Linked DNA regions of Homo sapiens. The protein of the gene in region 1 interacts with the protein of each later gene in a pairwise test. Each region holds a gene or a part of one and is shown on either strand. Other genes may lie near its edges.

What was found.
Region 2: the proteins of STK39 (region 1) and OTOF interact in a two-hybrid assay, tested with the Homo sapiens proteins (one study listed by BioGRID).

Annotation. Positions count from the first base shown.
Region 1 is NC_000002.12:168,244,277-168,252,056, forward strand, and holds the start of STK39 (STE20/SPS1-related proline-alanine-rich protein kinase), read right to left. Parts: upstream 3,320-7,780; 5' UTR 3,160-3,319; coding exon 2,952-3,159; intron 2,786-2,951; exon of another isoform or gene 1,278-2,785; intron 1-1,277. UniProt on the Homo sapiens protein: Effector serine/threonine-protein kinase component of the WNK-SPAK/OSR1 kinase cascade, which is involved in various processes, such as ion transport, response to hypertonic stress and blood pressure.
Region 2 is NC_000002.12:26,471,542-26,478,961, reverse strand, and holds part of OTOF (otoferlin), read left to right. Parts: intron 1-837; exon of another isoform or gene 838-1,068; coding exon of another isoform or gene 1,069-1,212; coding exon 1,213-1,313; intron 1,314-1,455; coding exon 1,456-1,546; intron 1,547-1,673; coding exon 1,674-1,790; intron 1,791-1,918; coding exon 1,919-2,071; intron 2,072-2,644; coding exon 2,645-2,834; intron 2,835-2,923; coding exon 2,924-3,048; intron 3,049-3,468; coding exon 3,469-3,603; intron 3,604-4,287; coding exon 4,288-4,449; intron 4,450-4,851; coding exon 4,852-4,971; intron 4,972-5,394; coding exon 5,395-5,556; intron 5,557-5,667; coding exon 5,668-5,830; intron 5,831-6,312; coding exon 6,313-6,443; intron 6,444-7,420. UniProt on the Homo sapiens protein: Key calcium ion sensor involved in the Ca(2+)-triggered synaptic vesicle-plasma membrane fusion and in the control of neurotransmitter release at these output synapses.

The DNA.
Region 1 (7,780 bases):
ACAACTGAACCTGCTTTGTTTGGATTTTAGTAAACTTATTCTCTCTTAATCCTGGGGGACCAAACTCTGCCCAGAAGGAAATGAAGAAAAAGTCCTCCGTGCCCGTGCCATGCTGGAAAGTTAAAACACGGTGCCTCCTTTGGTTTTCTGTTCAGGCACATCTGAGCCTCCTGCTGCTGGTCACGGTTCACACTGCTGGAGTCATATCATATGACACCTGCCGTATGGCGGGTAGAAGCAAAGGCTGTCAACTGGCATTCATGTTGAAACTGGTTCAGTGTTTGAACTGCTAACTTCTGCGTGTAATGTTTAAGCAAAAGTGCTTAACCACAAGTTCAGTCTTAATCTCTCAACTAGCATTAAACCCTAAATGGAAACAGGTTTGTAATTCCTTATAAACATTAAGCCCTTGCGAAAAACCTATTCCAGCAATTTGATTTTTCAATAACAGGGCCTCCACACAGGCCAACTCTTTCTCTTTTAGTTGGGAAAATATGAGATAAACTTTAAATGTAGAAAAGCCCTTCCCACAATGCAAATGCGCAAAAGTCAGGGTAGAATAAGCAGGTGTTTTTGTTCTCAAATTCCTCAGGTAAATTTCTTTTTTTCCACTAAACTGACCAACCATAATTAACACTGCTGGGACTGCAAACAGAAAGAAGTCCTGCCATTAATCCCACTCAACTTAAACTAAGATTTTATTAGTTCACAAAAAAATACTGTTTTCAAAAGGCAACGTTTGTATTTTAACCCTAATAATTGACCAAGTAGGTATATAAATTGATTATAACTTCTCCCAATCCTATGGACTCTATGGAGAATTATGTGGCAGATACCATTATTCAACTTTTATGGCCCACCTCTTCCTGTCAGAGTTCACAGCTGGTTAGTGAAGGCAACAGTGGAAATAATTAAGCACCTTACAAACTCAGACTTAAAACCCAGCTCAACTACGACCTCTACTAAGAAATACTCTGCTTCCTTCTCTTTCCTGGCAGTCACTCCCTCCTTCGGGCTCTCCCAGTACTTACTCATCACATCCTATAGGATCCTTTCCCTATGTCTCCTAACAACTTAGGGCAGGGATCACTTTTGTTAATTTCTATATTGCTAGCAAGTGGGGCAATGCTTGGGACACAGCAGGCCTTCAGATCTTGTTGCGCAAATAACAACTATGAGGTTACATGCTATGAGGTCTGTAAAAAGAGGGGCAGAAGAAACCACGGCATTTTGCCTTGAAAGAAGCAGAAGGCTTTTCAAGGAATATTCACACTCACCTTGGAAGCGGAGTGAGATTTAGTACACAAAGATGGGCACTCACAGGAGGGAAGAGCCTCTGCAAGGCAGCAAAGAATGGAAGACCAGATGTGCGGAAGACAGCGGTGTATTCAGGAAGCAATCACTGAAGAGTAGACAATGGGAGGAGGCAGGCAGGTTGAGGGTACAGGGCCTATATGCCAGGTTAAAGAGGTTTCCATGGAATATTCCAGGCTTTGAGAAGCCCCTGAAGCTATTTCAGGCAGTGACATGAAGACTCATCCCTTTAGAGTCTTTGGTCAAAAATTATGAAAGATCTGGGTTTTCAAAGAATTTTGTCTACAGATGCCTATTATAGGTTATCTGAAGCTTGTATATATCCTAGGTTACGGACCTGCCCAACATTTTCTCACATATTTTTATGTATATATTTATATATATATTTCCGTCTATGCTGTTTTATTCCCCAATAGCAGGTGATAAAGGCTCATTTAAACACCTAGTGAAATTTTTATATCTGTTTTAATTTTTTTAAAAGGAGGTGAAGAATTTTTTGAAGTGAAAGTTAGAAAAAATACTTAAGATAAATATTCTGAACTCCTTTTTCATCGCTGTACTTATATACCAAGATTCTGGAAAGGCAACATCCCATCCCTGCGTCAGTAAGGTTAGACGCTGAGGGCCCACTTAACCTGGAGGCTTCCCTAAGTGACAAGACTCTCAAACTGGATGATCCAATAGGGAAGGTTCTAAGTCAAGGGACAAAACAAATCTCCTGGCCCTTCAAGTGCTTGGCCCAAGGAAAAGTAACGCCGAGCCCTGCGACTCTGCCAGGTATTTAAAAATGTAAGATAAGGTGATATTTGTGAGCCGGCCAGAAGGCAACGAAAGGCAGAGAGCAGATCACCGGCAGCCTCGGATTTCACTCTTGCAGCTCGGCCTGAAACAGAGGGAAGCATCGGCCCGGTGCAGGGCAGGAGGCCAGGGCACCCGCTTTCCCCGGGGAGCCGGACTGGGCGGCAGGCGGCGCACCCTGGCACGGAGGGAGGCGGGTACCCGGGCGCGCCGAGTGGCGCGGAGAGCCGGGCTGCAAGGCGGGCGTGGAGTGGCGGCTGTCAGGAAGAGAGGCCAGCATCCTCCCCGGCCTCAGAAAAGCACTGGGGCCTCCGCGGCTTCTACGTGGCCCCGTTACCCACGACGAGAGGGTCACGACGGGAGGCAGAGGAGCGGCTGCGCCCGCAGAGTCCCCCAGGACGCGGCCCCCGGGGCCCTGGAAACCCAGGGCGGGGCCCCCGCAACCACACCCCACCCGCGGCTGCCTGTCCGCGTGGCCACCGGCCACGGGCTGCGGTCCCGGCACGCGGGGGGAGGAAGATGCGGCGGCGCCGCCTGGTCCTCCGCTCCACCGCCCCGGCGATCCCTGAGATAAAAGTTTGCAGCATGCGGCTCGTCTGCAGTGCGAGTCACATCCGCCGCGCCGCCTCCTGCAGCACCAACGCTCATAGAACGAACAAATACATTAAAAATTAAAAAAAAAAAAAAAAAAAAAAAAAAAACTGTTGAAGCCAGTAGGCCCCGAAGCCGGCCTCTCTGCCTCCAGGGCGTGCATGCAGGCTAGCCCAGCATCCCGCGCCCCCTCCCGCCCGGCCTCGGCGCCCGGCCTGTGCCGGCCCCGCCGCGCCCGCCGCACTGACCGATAACCTCCTGCAGCTCGTACGCGTCCCTGCAGATGGGCCAGCCGACAGCCTGTGCCGCCGGGGCCGGGGCCGGGGCCGGGGCCGCGGGAGCTGCCGGGGCCGGCGCTGCTGTCGCGGCCGCCGGGGCCGCCGCCGCCGCCGCTGTCACCGGGGCCGCCTGCTGGGGAAGCTGGACGTGCACGGGCGAGCCGCTCGGCTCCGCCATGATGCTGCGGAGGAGAGCAGGAGGACGCGCCGGCCGACGGACGACCTTCCACTTGAAACTTCCTTTGCCTCGCCGCCGACACCTCTCGGCCGGCGCACGCCCTCCCCGCCCGCCGCCGCCGCCGCCGTCCCCGCCGAAGCCAGCTAGGAGGGGAGGGAGCAAGGGAGGCCGAGCTGGGCGGAGGGAGGAGGCAGCGCCGGCGGAGGCGGGGAAGGGAGGAGGCGGCGGCCGCTGCGCTCGCCGCGCGCCCAGAGCCTAGCGCGCGCTGTTCTCCGCCTCGGCGAGGGGAACCGCCGCCCCCCCTCTCCGCCGCCCCCTCCCGCTCCCGCTCCGCTGGCGGCCGGGGAAGTTCCCACCAAAGGAGTCAGGCCGCTTTGTGTGTGCTTTCGGGGCCACCGGCCCTGGTTCTCCTCCTCCCTCCCTGCTCGCCCTGCGCCTTGGCCCCAGACGATCAGGCTTGCCGGAGGACGCCCCCTGGGGACCCCGAGGGCGGGGTCGTTGAACGGCCGCCAGGTTCTCACATTCAGAATTCTCCTGCCACCAAAGAGAACCTGAAGTTCATTTACAAGTTGACGAGCGGGATACCTACATGGTGTCCCTTTGCAAGACGCCAGTTAGAAAATAACCCAAGTTGTAAGTTTCCGGCGCTTTACTTGCCGGTATCCCTTTCCCACCTTGCCTAATCTAATCGCAGTCCTTCTAGTTTTTCTTAGTAAATGAAACTTGATTCCTTAGGTCTCTGGCTGTTCAGACTTCATTTTTTCCAAGCCGCCTGGATCCCAGGGAGGCGATTTAAGGGGCTGTGGAATTAGAATAAGACATGCAGGAGAGGTTTAGAAAGTTTGCTCAAATTCTACACCCTTAATAATTGCCACGTTAGCCCGTGAGGACACTGAGGCCAGACATCAGGCGTTTCTTTAAGAGCGTATACTTGGTGGGGAAATAATTTATTGGGGCATGAATAAACTGTGTTGGAAGCTTTTAATTGCTGTTTTTTCAACACCCCAAAAATAACCTCGTCTGTAAAACTGCTATGGTAAAACCATAGGTTTTCCTAATTATAGGTGTCATATTTAACAGTGAATGTTCTCTGTGTTCCCTCCGTGGAGGTGACCAGGATCCACCGTTCTTGTCTCCAACTGAAACGGGGCAGTAAACCAATAGTATTGGTCGTTTGGCCAAGATGATCTTGTCTGGTTCTCATTGCTAGGACTGCTGAAGAAATAGGTAAGAATAATGAGGATGTAATAAAAACTCTAGGGATATCATGATTTTGTCTCCCGAGTGTATGTACAGAAATCTCACTAAAATTTTTGAAAGATTATTCAGAAGAAGCCCAGAAATTTATTAGGAAAGTTAGTTGTCTAATCAAAACATTGATGTCCACTGAAGATGAGGGCACTTAATCTCTTGGAGCATTACAAAAGTTGGAGTAAAGCAGCTACCTCGCTCTGGTCTTGAAGCAGAAGTTCATGCTGAACTAAGTGTACATTCTTTGATGCGGAGGACTTCAAAAACTGTGTCTTGTCATGTCTGTCAAGAAACAGAGCCCTTCATAAACAAATTCTAGGCCTCTGAGGAACAGGGGAGCTCTTTATACCAAGCCATGGCTGCTGACCTCTTCAAGTGCTGCCTCCACCCTACCCCAAAGAACTTTTAAGGACTGTTTTTAAAGGAAAAGAAAAATGATCAAATGAATATGACTTCCATTTTGTCATATGAATTTCTATTTTTGACTTTCAAACCATGAAGTGGGATTATGAAGACCAGGAATGTTCTTGGGACTTAGTAGGAAAACATGATGCCGTCAAGATCAATATCACAGAATTGAATCAAACACAGATCAATTAGTCTCCCACAAAAAGCAACTGTTCCCCAGTCACAGACTACATGTCGGTCTCTAGTCAACCGCTTTCCAAATGGCTACCAGGATGAAGACTTGCTTGAGTGGATGACTCAGTGCACATCCATCATTTCTACAGTAAATCGGTTTAAAGAAGAATGTCCCCTGGCATTGCTCTTTGGCATCATTTTTATAAATGAAGAACAGAATATGAATAATATTTTAAAATTATACAAAAGCATTAGAGTTAATGTTTCTGTAAACAATTGGGTAAAATGGTACTTAAAACTTAGAAATATATGTTTTTTAGAAGTATTCAACTGATATGCACTTTTCCCGGAAAATCCATTACTAAATTTAAATTGAAAGATGGGGATGGAGGCGGGTGCCTTTAAAATATAAACAAGGTTTATTTCAATGCATAAAGAGTACATTCAGTGAGCGATGTTAAAAATAGAAAGGAAAAATAAGGGTCTAAATGTTTTTAAAGTGTATCCAACTGCCTCATGATGTGTCAGGGTTTCTCAATCTCAGCGCTGTTTTGTGTCAGATAGTTCTCTTCGTTGTAGAGGTCTGTTCTCCTGTGGTATGGTCTGAATGTTTCTGTCCCCCCAAAATTCATATGTTGACACTTAATCGGCAGTGGAATAGTATTAAGAGCCTTTAGCAGGAGATTGGGTCATGAGGACAGAGCCCTCCTGAGTTAGATTAGTGCCCTTATAAATGAGGCCGGAAGGAGCTTGATGAGGATGCAGCTAGAGGCATTAGCTATGAAGTAGAGGGCAAGCCCTCAGTAAATACCTAATTTGCTGGCACCTTGATCTTGGACTTTCAGCCTCCAGAACTGTAAAAATGAATTTCCGTTGTTTGTCAGCTACCCAGTCTAAGGTATTTTGTCATACCAGCCAGAGCAGACAAAGGCACCCTGGCCTCTATGCACTAGATGCCAGTGGCAACCCTGCTGCTGACATTGTGACTATCAACAATGCCTCCAGACATTGCCAAATGTCCCCTGGAGGGTAAATAATGCTTTAGATGAAGTAAGTATACATTTTCATTTTATAAACAGATTATTGCAGTGGTTATTTGTATTACAAAGAGGTTTCGTAGAGTTCCATTATTTATTCATAAACCCTTTGAACATCTAAGAGAGGATGTGTAGTGAAGTGGCCAACGCCTTGAAGAAAGAAAGTACTGGATTCAAATCTGGACTTCGATGTTTTGTTTTGTTTTTTGAGACAGAGTCTCGCTCTTGTTGCCCATGCTGGAGTGCAGTGGCACAATCTCAGCTCACTGCAACCTCCACCTCCCAGGTTCAAGCGATTCTCTTGCCTCAGCCTCCCAAGTAGCTGGTACTACAGGTGCCCACCACCACGCCCAGCTAATTTTTGTATTTTTATTTATTTTTTTGTTTTTGTTTTTGAGACAGAGTCTCGCTGTGTCACCCAGGCTGGAGTGCAGTGGCGTGATCTCAGCTCACTGCAAGCTCTGCCTTCTGGGTTCACGCCATTCTCCTGCCTCAGCCTCCTGAGTAGCTGGGACTACAGGCACCCGCCACCACGCCTGGCTAATTTTTTTGTGTTTTTAGGAGAGACGGGGGTTTCACCGTGTTAGCCAGGATGGTCTCGATCTCCTGACCTTGTGATCCACCCGCCTCGGCCTCCCAAAGTACTGGGATTACAGGCGTGAGCCATTGCGCCTGGCCTATTTTTGTATTTTTAGTAGAGACGGGGTTTCGTGTTGTATTTTTTTGAGACAGAGTCTTACTCTTGTCACCCAGGCTGGAGTGCAATGGCACGATCTCGGCTCACTGCAACCTCTGCCTCCAGGGTTCAAGGTATTCTCCTGCCTTAGCCTCCTGAATAGCTGAGATTACAGGTGTGTGCCACCACACCAGCTAATTTTGTGTTTTTAGTAAAGATAGGATTTCACCATGTTGGCCAGGTTGGTCTCACACTCCTGACCTCTCAGGTGATCCACCCACCTTGGCTTCCCAAAGTGCTTGGATTACAGGCGTGAGCCACTGTGCCCAGCTCAACAGTTTTTCTAGAGACAAGGTCTTGCTCTGTCACCCAAGCTGGAGTGCAGTGGCATGATCATGGCTCACCGCAGCCTCGAGCTCCTGGGCACAAGCAATCCATCTTCCTCAGCCTCCCAAGTATCTGGAATTACAGGTGTGTGCCACCATGCCCAGCTAATTTGTATTTAATTTTGGAGAAGCAGGGTTTTGCTATGTTGCCCAGGATGGTCTTGAACTTCCTGGTCTCAGGTGATCCACCTCAGCCTTCCAAAGTGATGAGATTATAGTGTGAGCCACCATGCCTAGCCTCATTTTTTTTAAGTCTCTGCCTTTGGACTTACTTCACTCTCTGAGTCTCAGTTTTCTCCTGTGCAAAAATCAGTACAATAATAGCTTCCACATGGGTTGTTATAATGGCTTAGGATAATGGATGACACATAATAGAAGTTTAACAAAATGGAAACCACCACCACCATCATCATCATTATTCCTGTCTGCCAAGATTTGTAGCAAAATATGTAGTGCAAAGATATATAATTACAAGAATGAACTTTGCAGAATATAAGCTCCCTGAGGGCAGGATTTTTTGTTCCTTTGGTTTACTGCTGTATCCCAGTACCTAGAAAAACACCTGGCACAGAGGACACTCAGTAAATATTTGTTAAATGTTAATGTAACACTTTTTAAATACATAAAACATACTTTTAAGCATCAGAATGAGTCAGCACTGGCAAGGGTGGATTTTATAGGAGGAAATT
Region 2 (7,420 bases), about 140 Mb from region 1:
TTTGGGAGGCCAAGGCAGGTGGATCACCTGAGGTCAGGAGTTCGAGACCATCCTGGCCAACATAGTGAAATGCCGTCTCTACTAAAAATGCAAAAATTAGCGGGGCTTGGTGGCGGGCACCTGTAATCCCAGCTATTCGGGAGGCTGAAGCAGGAGAATCGCTTGAACCCGTGAGGCGGAGTTTGCAGTGAGCCAAGATGGCGCCACTGCACTCCAGCCTGGGCAACCGAGCAAAACTTCATCTCAAAAAATAAAATAAAATAAAATAAAACAAAATAAAAAAGCAAGGCTAGGGAAGGGAAATGGGGAAAAGGGAGAAGCGAGCAGTGTCTGAAGCTCAGGAGCTGCCCCCTCCTCCTCTGCCCACCCCTCTCCCCCCATGAGCCATGGGCACTGACTGGGCGAGGAGTGCAGCTGTTGGCATGAGACCTCCTTCTCCCCAGCCTGGGGAAGCAGGGACCAGCAGATAATCCCGCCCTTCCCTGAGCTGTTGCTGTTCCCTGTTGAAGTTCCCTGAAGCTCAGCCAGCTCATATTTTATAAAAATGAATTAAAACCTCCAAAAAAATCAAGGCTAATATGAGGTCTGCTCCCAGCCCCCTGCCAATGTCCTCCTTGTCATCCCTGTCTTGTGACTATAACCACAATTAAAGCCCATAGCCTTTGCAGTGTGACCTGGGTCTGCAGTTATCTGCAAGGCTTCCCCCTAAGGAGCTGGGGTACAAGCTGACCTGTGTTTCCTGTGGGACCTGGGTCTCACAGCCCTCCCAGTGCTCTCAGAGCCAGAGCCACTCCCTCTTCCCCCAGGCATCTGTTCCCATCCCCTGCCACAGGCTCCAGCATTCTGGAGTGACGTCAGGATCTTGGCACATCCAGTCCTAGGGTTTCCCTCTGTCTCTGGCCAGCCCTGAGCCCCGTAGCCGTGAGTTCTGCCCAGGCCCTGTGAGCTCACCAGAGCCACAGACTCACAGCCCAGAGGTGGCTTCTTCCTTCAGGAACTGAAGAACCCCCATGAACACCAACATCTCCAGGTTCTGAGAACAGAACCTGGGAAATTGATGACTTCCTCATGATGACCGATACTCAGGATGGCCCTAGCGAGAGCTCCCAGATCATGAGGTCCCTCACTCCCCTGATCAACAGGGAGGAGGCATTTGGGGAGGCTGGGGAGGCGGGGCTGTGGCCCAGCATCACCCACACTCCTGATTCACAGGAAGAAGGCCTGAACGACATACAGGAGATGATCAAAACGGAGAAGTCCTACCCTGAGCGTCGCCTGCGGGGCGTCCTGGAGGAGCTGAGCTGTGGCTGCTGGTGAGAAGGGAGGGGCGGCAGGTGGGGGGAGGATGAGGCGGAACTGGACAAAGGGGACCCTGCCAGGGCTGGGCAGATGAGGAAGAATCTACAGAGCCCCTGCTGGTCAGGCTCGCTAAACCCCGGCTCGCCCTACCCCCAGCCGCTTCCTCTCCCTCGCTGACAAGGACCAGGGCCACTCATCCCGCACCAGGCTTGACCGGGAGCGCCTCAAGTCCTGCATGAGGGAGCTGGTGAGGACGCAACTGGACGGCGGGGGCTGGAGGGAGGGCCTGGTTGTGAGAAGGTGTCACAACCCCCTTTGTCATGGCCCGAGCTGTCCCCCAGTTGCTGGGTTCACTGACACCCCCTCCTTCGCAGGAAAACATGGGGCAGCAGGCCAGGATGCTGCGGGCCCAGGTGAAGCGGCACACGGTGCGGGACAAGCTGAGGCTGTGCCAGAACTTCCTGCAGAAGCTGCGCTTCCTGGCGGACGAGGTGCGGCCCAAGGGGTCGGGGCTTTGCCTCATCCAGGGCTGGCTCTCTGGGGCCCCTCAGGATCAGGGGGCTCAATCAGGAGGCTAGACCCCCTTACCCACTGCCCCTGGCCACCCCCCAACCCCCAGCCCCAGCACAGCATTCCCGACATCTTCATCTGGATGATGAGCAACAACAAGCGTGTCGCCTATGCCCGTGTGCCCTCCAAGGACCTGCTCTTCTCCATCGTGGAGGAGGAGACTGGCAAGGACTGCGCCAAGGTCAAGACGCTCTTCCTTAAGGTGCTGGAGGGGGCAGGATGGATGGGGGCCTGGGTCCTTTCAGGGGAGCAGCAGCCCCCACCTGGGGCTGGAAGCCTGAGTGACAGGGTGGGGCCTTCAAGCAGCAGGTGCTCAGAGAAGAGCCAAGAATGGGAAGGACGTGGGGGAAGGGGTGGGGAAGGAGGTGGGGGAAGGGGTGGGGGAAGGGGTGGGGAAGGAGGTGGGGGAAGGGGTGGGGGAAGGGGTGGGGGAAGGGGTGGGGAAGGAGGTGGGGGAAGGGGTGGGGGAAGGGGTGGGGAAGGAGGTGGGGGAAGGGGTGAGGGAAGGGGTGGGGGAAGGGGTGGGGAAGGAGGTGGGGGAAGGGGTGGGGAAGGAGGTGGGGGAAGGGGTGGGGAAGGAGGTGGGGGAAGGGGTGGGGAAGGGGGCATGACGGCCCCCTGCCCATCCTCCTGCCTCCACCGGACCCCAGCCCAGCGGGATGGCTGTGAAGGGGCAGGGCAGCTCTGACCAGGGCCTCTGCCGGCCCCTGCCCCTTCCCCACCTCTTGGGCCCTGGCAGCCGTCAGGCTCCTGGTGACCCCATGCCCACCCCCAGCTGCCAGGGAAGCGGGGCTTCGGCTCGGCAGGCTGGACAGTGCAGGCCAAGGTGGAGCTGTACCTGTGGCTGGGCCTCAGCAAACAGCGCAAGGAGTTCCTGTGCGGCCTGCCCTGTGGCTTCCAGGAGGTCAAGGCAGCCCAGGGCCTGGGCCTGCATGCCTTCCCACCCGTCAGCCTGGTCTACACCAGTGAGTGAGGACCCCTCACTCGAAGCCTCACCTGGGAGGGGGCCGGAGGGGCTGCCCATCCTGGAACCTCAGGCTGCCCTTCCCCACAGAGAAGCAGGCGTTCCAGCTCCGAGCGCACATGTACCAGGCCCGCAGCCTCTTTGCCGCCGACAGCAGCGGACTCTCAGACCCCTTTGCCCGCGTCTTCTTCATCAATCAGAGTCAGTGCACAGAGGTGAGGGCCTGGGAGGAGGGAGTGGCTCTGGCTTTGAGAGCACCAGAAGCCTGTGAGCCTGTGGGGACTGGAGCCTGTGGGGCCTGTGAGCCTGTGGGGCCTGGAGCCACAGGTCAGCCAGTGCCCCGGTTTCTCAGGGGAAGCCCTGCAGATAACTGCAGCAGACGCGGGTCACACTGGAAAGGCTACGGGCTTTAGCTGTGGTTATATTCACAAGACAGGGACGACAAGGAGGACATTGGCAGGGGGCTTGGGCCAAACCTCATATTAGCCTTGATTTTAAGATTTCTGGAAGAATCAAGACACCTGTCACTCCTGCCCCCAGGTTCCGTGGAAGCTGAGTGAGTAGGGGTGGCTTCTGTTTGTGCATCTGCCCCCCCCTCTGTCACTTGTCCCCTGTCTCCCCATCCCATGCTGCAGGTGCTGAATGAGACCCTGTGTCCCACCTGGGACCAGATGCTGGTGTTCGACAACCTGGAGCTCTATGGTGAAGCTCATGAGCTGAGGGACGATCCGCCCATCATTGTCATTGAAATCTATGACCAGGATTCCATGGTATGGGTGGGCTCTGGTGCCAGGGACCCCAGCAGCACCACACCTGGCCCTTGTTCCCTGCACTCCACCTGCGCTGAGGCTGTGCCCTCACCTCCGCCACCCACCTGCAGAGCTCCTTGGCCAGGTGCTGGCTGGGAAGCTGGGAGTGGGGGCTGACATCTAGCTCCTCCTGCCTGCTTGCGGCAGCCTGACCCCTTCCCAGGCCAGCACATCCTCACCTCCTGTCTCCTACAGACTGAGCCCTGGAGGTGTGCCAGCAAGTCCTGCTGTCACTAGCCTCCCCACCCCAGGGCTCCCCGACCCCTGCCCTCACCTACCACAACCAGTAACAGCCTTGCCATCCTCCGTGGAGGTTCTGGAGCAGGGAGTAAGGGATTGGGGTGACCCCCGAGAGTTAGCGAGCCACCTTCTCACATACCACCTCAGCTGCTGAGGTGCCCAGATAGCCCTGGACTAGAGGTAGGAGGACCTCATGTCTAGTCCTGAGCCGGGCATCTGCCATTTACTGACTGCTTGGCCTTGAACAAGTCTTTGGTGGGCCCTGAGACTTGGTTTCCTCATCTGTAAAATGGGGTGATCACACCTGTCCCTTACAACAACTCATGGCGCTGTGGTAAGGACCAAACGAGATCACAGGTGTGGACAGCAAGCACCAAGAGGCTTCTGGGTTGTCTGTTGCGTCAGGGCAAAGCTGACTTCATGGGCCGGACCTTCGCCAAACCCCTGGTGAAGATGGCAGACGAGGCGTACTGCCCACCCCGCTTCCCACCTCAGCTCGAGTACTACCAGATCTACCGTGGCAACGCCACAGCTGGAGACCTGCTGGCGGCCTTCGAGCTGCTGCAGGTGGGACTGCAGGGAAGAGGGGCTGAGGCCTGGGGACTGGAGGCTGGGAGTTGGGGCCTAGGGCTGGGGGCTGGACCCTGAAGGCTGGGGCCTGGGGTCTGGGGCCTGGGGGTGGGGCCTGGGGGCTGGAGGCTGGGGCCTGGGGCTGGGGGCTGGGGCTGAGGGCTGGGGCCTGGGGCCTGGGGGGTTAGGGCCTGGGCGTTAGGTCCTGGGGGTTGGGGCCTGGAGCTGGGGCCTGGGGGCTGGGGCCTAGGGGCCTCTCTCCTACCCATCCTGACCAAAGCTGGGGGCGTGGTCCTTAGGGGGTTTCCCTGTCTCCCCAGATCATGGCAAACAACTCATGGGGAAAGAGACCCTGTCCCTGGGCTCCCCAGTGTGTGACCTGTGACCCCCATTCCCCAGATTGGACCAGCAGGGAAGGCTGACCTGCCCCCCATCAATGGCCCGGTGGACGTGGACCGAGGTCCCATCATGCCCGTGCCCATGGGCATCCGGCCCGTGCTCAGCAAGTACCGAGTGGAGGTGCGAGGGCTCTGTGTGGCCCTTCCCTTTTGGATGAGGAGTCTGAGGACCCAGGAGGGGAAGTGGCTTGTCATCCCCCTCCCACCACCATCACCAGGAGCCAGCAGCAGACCCAGGCTCCTGCCCCAGCCCAGGGCCTGCCCCCATCTGCACCAAGTCGCACTCCCATGTCCCAGGACCATGCCCAGCCCTCCTGTCTGCACCCCTGACCCTGCACCCCTTCTCCGGGCAGCCCCACCCTCATCCCTGGAGAACGCCTGCCCCTCCTCTGCTCTCCTGGCCCTGCTCCCACCCTTTGAAATCTGGGGTGAACTACTGCCCATCCCACTGCCCGGTTCCCTATTGGATGGTCCAGCACCCCCATGGCTGGCTCCCTTGACTAAGGGGCTCTCTTCTCTGCACCCACCCTCCAACCTCTCCCAGGTGCTGTTCTGGGGCCTACGGGACCTAAAGCGGGTGAACCTGGCCCAGGTGGACCGGCCACGGGTGGACATCGAGTGTGCAGGGAAGGGGGTGCAGTCGTCCCTGATCCACAATTATAAGAAGAACCCCAACTTCAACACCCTCGTCAAGTGGTTTGAAGTGGTGAGTGCAGGCCCTGGCGGAGGACATCCTGTGGCCAGTGTGGCTCCACTCAGCCAGCCGGCTTCCTCTGCCCCTTCTTGGAGGCTCAGGCTCCTGTCGCCAACACCCCAGGACCTCCCAGAGAACGAGCTGCTGCACCCGCCCTTGAACATCCGTGTGGTGGACTGCCGGGCCTTCGGTCGCTACACACTGGTGGGCTCCCATGCCGTCAGCTCCCTGCGACGCTTCATCTACCGGCCCCCAGACCGCTCGGCCCCCAGCTGGAACACCACGGGTATGGCCACATCCACCCTGCCACCAAGCCTGGCTCCACGCCCCCCAGGGAAGGGCTCCAGGTCTCCGCCCAGTCCAAGCCGCGACCAGAGTTTGCTCTTTGGGGCCGAGGGGGTGGGCATAGAAGAAGGTCACCCTGGTGGCCAAGGAAGGCTGCCCAAGGTGACGCCAGCTCTACAGCCAGAGAGGGCAGAACTGGAGACAGCCTGGGGGGGCCTGAGGGCAGAAAGCCCCTTGCGCTGGTTGATGGAGAAGACCCAGGCCTCCCCGCCACCTCCCTCCCACCGGCCTCCGCAGCTTCCCCTTATCTCGGGCTCTCTTCTTCCCTCCCCATGCCCATATTTTCTCCCTTGACTGCCTGTCCCCCTCTCCCTCAGAAAGTTCCAGAATCAGCTTTAGTTCTCCGCACCTTCCTGCCCCGCCAATCTCACTGTTCCTCTTGCTCCTTCCTCTGCCTGTCTGTCCATCTATCCATCTGTCCAGTCAGGCTTCTCCGGCGCTGCCGTGTGCTGTGCAATGGGGGCTCCTCCTCTCACTCCACAGGGGAGGTTGTGGTGACTATGGAGCCAGAGGTACCCATCAAGAAACTGGAGACCATGGTGAAGCTGGACGCGGTAAGGCGGGTGGGGTCAGCCCCCTGCTGGCTGGGAACATGCAACTTCGTGTGACACATCCTGTGAACCAGACTATCTGCCCCGAGAGAAAAGGACACTAAGAGCCTCCTTTGGCATGTGACTGTCGGGGGCTGAGCTTGATTGTGTGTCCAAACAGCTCCCTCCTAATACTATCCTGGAATGCACACGCGTGCGTGTGGTATGTAAATGTGCATGTGTGTGCGCATGTGTGTGGTGTGCATATGTGCATGTGTGTGTGCATGCATGTGATGTATGTGCATTTGTGCGTGCATGCGTATGTGTGGTGTGCATATGTGCATCGTGCATGTATGCATGTGGTGTATGTGCATGTGTGTGTGCATGTATGTGGGGTATGTGCATATGCACGTGCGTGCGTGTGGTGTGCACATGTGCATGCATGTGTGGTGTATGTTCATATGCACGTGCATGCATGCATGTGGTATGAGCATGTGCATGTATGTGTGCATGCGTATGGTGTGCATATGTGCATGTGGTGTGTGCATATGTGTGTGCATGTGGTGTGTAAATGCATATGTGCATGTGTGCAGTGTGCATGCATGCGGGTGGTAGGTAAATGTGCATGAGTGTGGTATATATGCATATATGTGTGCATGTGCGCTTGTGTGCATATGTGCATGTGTGCATGTGGTATGTAAATGTGCATGTGTGCATGTGTGCATGTGGTGTATGTGCATATATGTGTGCATGCATGCTTGCGGTGTGCGTATGTGCACATGCGTGCATACATGTGGGTGTGTGCATGTGCACTGGCATGTGGTATGTGTGTATGAGAGACAGAGTGAGCCATCACAGTTTATTATAATCACCTGCTATAATTTTTACTCCAACAAATGACACCATAGGTAATGATTCCTTATGAGATCATCAGTGTCCTTTCCAAAGAGTCCCTGGTTTTCCATCCCAGCCATTCACAAATGACACTTCCCTGGCCTGGG